Linked DNA regions of Homo sapiens. The protein of the gene in region 2 purifies or fractionates together with the protein of the main gene of each other region. This does not show direct contact. Each region holds a gene or a part of one and is shown on either strand. Other genes may lie near its edges.

Evidence for each region.
Region 1: the proteins of GOLGA1 (region 2) and TDP1 fractionate together in Homo sapiens (co-fractionation; one large-scale study listed by BioGRID). This does not show direct contact.

Annotation. Positions count from the first base shown.
Region 1 is NC_000014.9:89,986,738-89,990,556, reverse strand, and holds part of TDP1 (tyrosyl-DNA phosphodiesterase 1), read right to left. Parts: intron 1,653-3,819; coding exon 1,467-1,652; intron 841-1,466; coding exon 792-840; intron 1-791. UniProt on the Homo sapiens protein: DNA repair enzyme that can remove a variety of covalent adducts from DNA through hydrolysis of a 3'-phosphodiester bond, giving rise to DNA with a free 3' phosphate.
Region 2 is NC_000009.12:124,920,299-124,924,117, reverse strand, and holds part of GOLGA1 (golgin subfamily A member 1), read left to right. Parts: intron 1-894; coding exon 895-1,023; intron 1,024-2,225; coding exon 2,226-2,395; intron 2,396-2,877; coding exon 2,878-2,989; intron 2,990-3,819. UniProt on the Homo sapiens protein: Involved in vesicular trafficking at the Golgi apparatus level. Involved in endosome-to-Golgi trafficking. Mechanistically, captures transport vesicles arriving from endosomes via the protein TBC1D23.

The DNA.
Region 1 (3,819 bases), on a different chromosome or scaffold from region 2:
AAAAAAAAAGGGCTAATACACTCCAAACGCTAGCGAAATTTTCCTGGCAGATTTTTCTTATTGAGCCTGATAAGCAATAAATGGACTAAATTAGTTTAATTCAGTGCATTCTGCTTTCAGCCATCAACAAATGCCAATTAGACTTTGCTTTTTCCAGAGACAACCACTATGTGGGTTTTCAGTTAACATCTCCTGATTACACTAACTAGCGGGGCTGCTGAATTCTAAATAAAGGTTTAGTGCCTGGTATGAGTATAAGGGAAAGGGACAGCGTTGACAGATGCCTACAAAAAATCTTAGGCATTTGCAGATGACACCCTTGACAGAATAGACATATCAACAAAGTTATACCAAAGGCAAAATTTTAAAAATTCCGGACCTTAAATGTTATCTATAGCAGGCATTTAAAAGGACCACATGGTACCTCAAACACAGGAAGGGAGGATATGCAGAGATGAGAGGAAGGTATGTTGGATAAGCTCTGAAAACGCATTGAAGAGTAAGGGGAAGCTGATTTTATTTGGCTATCTTGTCTGGACAACCAACCTGCTGGTTACCTTACTGGTAAAAATGAAAACTATTGTGCAGAGGGTTTCTGTAAGGATTAATAACACACCCAAACTGAAGGGTATCATCTGCGGAATGCAGAGCTTCATATTGCCTATTTTCATGATCCTTATATAGTTAAGTGAAAACCATCTCCAAATTTCTACGCAATAGTAGTAAAACTTTACCAGGACATTCATGAAATATACATAAAACACAATCAAGACAGTCTCCCCAAGAATTACCAGGATATCCTTCTAAACTGGTCCGCACATTTTCCACAGAAGGATAGATCTAAAAATAAGAGGAAAACAATAAAACTCGGAATGTACCATGTTGAAGAAAAGGAATGATAATCAGCTTTTAAGGAAATGAAAATCTGTTAAAAATACTTTTAAATTAGAAAATATGCTTTAAATTTTTAAAAGTTCTCATCTTATGAAAAAAATGAACTAGTAATTAAACAACAGGAACCATATTTGATGTAAAATTATACTTCAATTGGAGTATTTTTTCCTTTGAAATTCAAGTTAACATTGAATGGAAAATTAATTATTAATTCACAGTTCTCTAAATAATTAAAATGCCCATAATTCTGCTGGCTGTGCTACATCAAATATTTTCTACCTTGGTTCAACAACCTGAAAGAAAGGATAGAAAAATCACAGGCCAGTCTGTGTCTGCAATGGAGCTCCTGAACGAATCGGCAAGCTCTTAGCACTGGATATTAAGGCAAAGGCAACTTGATTACAAATGACGATGCTAATGTACTGCTCTTTCCGCACCCCGCCCCCGCCACGCCAAAAAAAAAAAAAGAATCACAGAATAAAACATCTCTCCATTACAAAGAGGACCAATTTTCAATTCTTCTCCTGTGTAGAGAATAAAAGTAAACTACCTCAATGAGGACGAGAACTCACCAAGTAAAGAGGAACAGAGCTTTTTCCTGGAGTCTTGCTTTCCTTCCCCAGTGTCAGCATGCTCTCTTTAAACTCAGAACATAACCACTTTGATTCATCGGCTCCCAAGGAGCCAACGCTTGAAAACTGACCTACGACAGGCCAGGACTCTGCGTTAGGCATGGATGAGGCATGGTCTTTCAGAAGCTGGGAAAGAATAAAAGTGAATGTTAAAGTGACTCAAATAATCTTAACAGAAATGCTGCAATATTTGAAAACAGTTTTCTGCTCTTGGAAAGCCTAATTAACAAGAAAAGCTGAAAATACTAGTGATCAATTTCATACCCACACATACATACTTCTTCTTTGGGAAATTTTTTTTAAATACTAAAAACATATTTTTAATGGAGTAGATGGACAGAAGTTCTCCTTTCCAAAATTATTTGATTTGTACTAAAAGCAAAAACAGGTTTAAAAAGGCCCATTTCAGAAGAAATTTCAGATAAACCACCAACTTGTCATATGAAATTAGATTTTTTTTACTTGAAATCACAAGTGTTTAATGCAGCTTTGATGCTATGAAATATGTATTTGGTCTTCATCCCTGTTTCCTGGCATGCAACTACTAAAATCCTTGGGATCTCCAATGTGAAGTCTTTCTGTATGTTAATGAGACTGATGGCTGGCAGACCCTAGGCAACTTCAGGATGGGGGCTGGTCACGATAAAGACCAAGGCATGATTAGAAGATTGGGACTTTTGGCACAACCCCCCATCCTCCAGGGATAGGAGGGGCTAAAGGTTGAGCTGATCAGCAATGGCCAGTGATGTAATCAACCATGCCTATGTAATGAAGCCTCCATTAAAAACCCAAAAGGACAGGGTTTAGGGAGCTTTCCGACAGCTGAACACCTGCGGGCTGCTGGACAGTGGTGGTGCATCCAGAGAGGGCATGAAAGCTCTGTGCCCCTTCCCCTATACCTTGCTCTATGCATCTCTTCATCTGTATCCTTTATAATAAAGCAGTAAATGTTAAGTGTTTCCCTGAGTTCAGCGAGCTGCTCTAGCAAATGAAGCCCAAAGAGAGGGTCATGGGAACCTCAACTTGAAGCTGGTCAGTCAGAAGTTCTGGAGGCCCAGACTTGCAACTGGTGTCTGAGGGAGAGGGGCAGTCTTGTGGGATGGAGCCCTCAATCTATGGGATCTGAGGCTACCCCCATATTTCTTTAAAAAAAATGTATTTTTTCAATTATTTTTTCCCTACTATTCCCCAACTCCTTCCCCACTTCCTACTTAGACCTTTAGAAATACAATATAACCTTTTACCTTTCCTTTACTAGACACTCCCTACAGGGCAAGTTCATCTATGTGCTTAGAAGCTCCAGAGCAGAACTTTCTCCCACCAGGGGACTGCCTCGAGGGACAGCAGTAAATTTACAACCCAAAGTATGCCCACTAAGAAACTCTCCCACCTGGAGAGTTTCAGCCATCTTTACAACCTAGTTCTGCCCAGGAAGAGACCAAATGGACTGCCTGGTAGAGAAGGCAGAAAGTAAGGAAGTATCCACCTGCTTGCTTCCTCCTCTGCGTGCCATTCATGCTAGGCCCCTTTTAAAAGTGTCCACTTTCTGCTCCAAGAGCAAAGCAGTATCCTTAAGACAGGAAGCCTGTACTTATTCCTCTAAGCCAGCTTTGGAATAAAAAATAACTTTTTTTATACCATCACTTTCTTTATATCATCACTTTCTTTAAAGTCACTTTCTTTATACATCTCCAGGAAGACAGCATAAGAACTGAAGTGAATTAGAGGACACCCAGCTGGTGTCCCCTGCTTAGTGTATGAGGAAAACCCCACACATATTTGGTCACAGTTTTCTGTGTTGACTGTTGTAGTGTGAGAGCAGAGGAAACAAAGTGAGTTTTTTGCTACCAACACTTAAACAATACCTAGAAGGATTACATATTTTGACTCCTATCATTTGAAAGAGGCTTAACAGTCATAGTTTAACACTTGAGCTCCAGGCAGCTGTGATGGTCTAAACATAAAAGAGAATATTTACATACACATACCAGCTAAAACACTGCAGAAGACTGATCTGCATTTCCTGCTTTGATAATTATGCAAAGCTGCAGAAACAATTAAGAAAACATTTGGAAACTGTATCCACTTAAATATGTACTGAATGCCTACCTAGAGGGCTGGAGAGAGCAGAAAAATAAACTGTAGCTCATCTGACTGACGTTTTGTTTAATTTAATATGTATTATTTTCCTTAACACAGGTTAGGCATTAATACTTACACATACACTTCCCAAAAAGCCCAAAGTTTCCATGTCCACCTTGGGTACAGCATGGTGTAGGAAACAGAGCTGAAC
Region 2 (3,819 bases):
TTGGGAAGCAGAGGTGGGTGGATCACCTGAAGTCAGGAGTTCGAGACCAGCCTGGCAAACATGGTGAAACCTCATCTCTGCTAAAAGTAGAAAAATTAGCCGGGCATGGTGGTGCATGCCTGTAGTCTCAGGTACTCAGGAAGCTGAGGCATGAAAATCACTTCAACCTGGGAGGCAGAGGATGCAGTAAGCTGAGATCTCACCACTGCAAACCAACCTGGGCAACAGAGTGAGACTCTGTGTCAAAAAACAAACAACAACGACGAAAGAGTAGACACATAAAATATATATCTGGACTTGCTAAACAGATGTAAGAACTTTAAAGTTCTACATAGGCCATGCACGATGGCTCATATCTATCAACACTTTGAGAGGCTGAGGCAGGAGAATGTCTTGAGGCCAGGAGTTCAAGATCAGCCTGGATAACAGAGCAAGATCCTGTCTCTACCAAAAAAAAAAAAAAGTTCTACGTAATTGTTGCTTTTATTCCCCTTTTTCACAATTATTTAAAACACATTTATTTTTAAATAAAGAATTAAATTCTCTAGTTAAAGGATTAATTCAATTAAAGAATTTGTAAATAATGCCATATTTCTGTAATGCTTTCCATTATCAATGCATCATTGTCCACTGGCATGAGATTTCCTGAAGATTTTTCCTTTATTAAGAATTCCACTTTCAGGCCGGGTGTGGTGGCTCATGTCTGTAATCTTAGCACTTTGGGAGGCCAAGGCGGGAGGATTGCATGAGCCCAGGAGTTCAAGGCCAGCCTGGGCAACTAGTGAGACTCTGTCTCTAAAGACAAAAATTTTAAAAAAGAAAAGATTTTCACTTTCGTAATACAGATTTCTAATGCTTTCGTTGCCTGAGTTGATGTCTTCTTCTTTCAAATAGGAGAAAAATATTCTGACAGCCCAGTTACAGGAAATGAAGAACCAGAGTATGAATCTTTTCCAAAGGAGAGATGAAATGGATGAATTAGAGGGGTTCCAGCAGCAGGAACTAAGTAAAATAAAGCACATGGTATGCATTTTTGTTTTAGTAGCTAAATACTGAATAGATGATTATTCACTCTGATTTTACTAGTCATCACTCTCTAATTGCTGATAAACATACACCAGTAATATGTGATATTAATCATATTTGATATTAATCATATTTGTATGTTTTTAAATTTATTAAAATAGAAAAGTTCTGTTTAAAATGTTCTTTTTCTGTTTTGTTTTGGGTTTTGTTTTGTTTTGTTTTGTTTTGTTTTTAACTACTGGGTATATAAATTCTCTTATAAGCCCACAAAAATGTTATAGAAATTTGGCTATTGGTCCACATTTTTTTTTTTAAATAGATGGAGTCTCACGGTGTTGCCCAGGCTGGAGTATAATGGCTACTCACAGGTGCGATCATAGCACACTGCAGCCTCAAATTCGTGGGCTCAAGCTGTCCTCCCACTTTAGCCTCCCAAGTAACTGGAACTGTAAGCATGTACTGTAGGTGTGTGCCACCATGCCTGACAAGCTTAGATTTTTTTTTTTCTTTCCTTTCTTTCTTTCTTTTTTTTTTTTTTTTTGAGATAGAGTCTCACTCTGTCACCCAAGCTGGAGTGCAGTGGCATGATCATGGCCCACTGCAGCCTCGACCTCCCAGACTCAAGGGATTCTTCCACCTAAGCCTCCCGAGTAGCTGGGACTACAGGCGCACTACCATGCCCGGCTAATTTTTGTATTTTTTGTAGAGGTGGTGTTTCGCCATGTTACCCAGGCTGCTCTCAAACTCCTGGGCTTAAACGATATGCATGCCTCAACCTCCCAAAATGGTGGGATTACAGGCGTGAGCCACCGTATCCAGCCGAGATTTAAGTGTATTTTTCTTTTTTACTTCTTTTTTTTTTTTGAGATGGAGCCTAGCTCTGTCACCCAGGCTGGAGTGCAGTGGCGCGATCTTGGCTAATTGCAACCTCCACCTCCCGGGTTCAAGTGATTCTCCCGCCTCAGCCTCCCGAGTAGCTGGGATTACAGGCACCCGCCACCACGCCCGGCTAATGTTTGTATTTTTAGTAGAGATAGGGTTTTGCCATGTCAGCAAGGCTGGTCTCAAACTCCTGACCTCAAGTGATCCACCTGCCTCAGCCTCCCAAAGTGTTGGGATTACAGGCGTGAGCCAGCATGCCTGATCTTAAGTGTATTTTTCTTAGCATAGCCCAATGAAACTTTGTATTTTTGTGTCAGCTTTTAAAAAAAGAAGAAAGTCTAGGGAAAATGGAACAAGAATTGGAGGCACGAACCAGAGAACTTAGTCGTACCCAGGAGGAGTTGATGAACTCCAATCAGATGTCATCAGACTTAAGCCAGAAGCTAGAAGAATTGCAGAGACACTACTCAACGCTGGAAGAGCAGAGGTTCTTGCTTGGTCTGTGGGGCCCTTGGGAAGAGGTGTTAGTGTAGTTCTGGCTATAGCCTGCCCACCTTTCCCCATTGTTCATTACACCACTTTCTGATTCCGGTGCTGGCAAAGGCTTCTGGACACATCCTTACCTGCCTAGGACTCAGGCCTCACCCTACCTCCAACCCATTTTCCCCTTCAGCTGCTGAAACTCAGGACAGTTCCACCCTGCTGAACAATTCAGTGTGGTTTTAGTTTGTAAAGTATTAATAGACTAAGGAAAGGCAGGTCAGGATTTCTTTCTTAAACTAGGGTGGACTTTTTCTCTTTGGGCTCCTGCTTCAGAGAGAGCCGAGGCTTTTTCCGTTGAAAACCTGCATGTGGCTAATGATGCTTGTAGCCCTGACACAGAAGAAACCATTTGTATTTTTCCTGCAGAAGACTGTATATTAGATGAGATATCCAAATTTGTTCATTGTCTGCTTTCTTTTGATGAAGAGATCATGTGATAGCTTCAAAAACAGGTGCAGAAAGTAAGATCACAGCCCTGGAACAAAAGGAACAAGAGCTCCAAGCACTCATTCAGCAGCTTTCCATTGATTTGCAAAAGGTAAGTAGAATATGAGGAGAAGACCTGGATTTCTAAGATTCATAAAAACTAATTCTTTCAGAAATTTCTGCCTGAGAGTAGCTACTGAACATACATTTCTCATGCAGTCCACATGGCTCCATTTCCTGTACTAGCCAGGCTGCACTCAGATGGAAATGGCCATACAGCTGAACAAGGGTTGCTTAGCAGAAGTAGTCAGTATTTTCCTGTCAGGAATTCTCAAAGTACACCATTTGGTCGACTCAAATATGTCTCTCTTTTTTTTTTTTTTTTCTTTTTTTTTGGGACAGAGTCTTGCTCTTGTCGCCCAGGTATTATAGGCGCCCGCCACCACACCCGGCTAATTTTTGTATTTTTAGTAGAGACAGGGTTTTACCATGTTGGCCAGGCTGGTCTCAAACTCCTGACCTCGTGATCCACCAACCTCGGCCTCCCAAAGTGCTGAGATTACAGGCGTGAGCCACCGTGCCTGGCCTGACTCAAATATGTCTTTAAGCACATAATGGACCTTGAGCATGAAAAATACAATAGTGGCTGACATGACCAGGGCTGTACCTTTGACATACTTGGCTCTAATCCAGTTTGTTTTATGGCACGTAATCAAATGATGTCATTACAATTTGTTTTTTCATTTCATTGACATACATTTGTTTCTACATTAGGGCTGTGCTACACTCTGAGAATATAAAGATGAATGATAATATTTTTGAATATAAAGTAGTGTTTCTCAGGCCCAGCACAGTGACTCAAGCCTGTAGTCCTAGCACTTTGGTAGGCCAAGGCAGGAGGATCACATGAGGTCCTCCTCTTGACCCCATCTCTACCAAAAA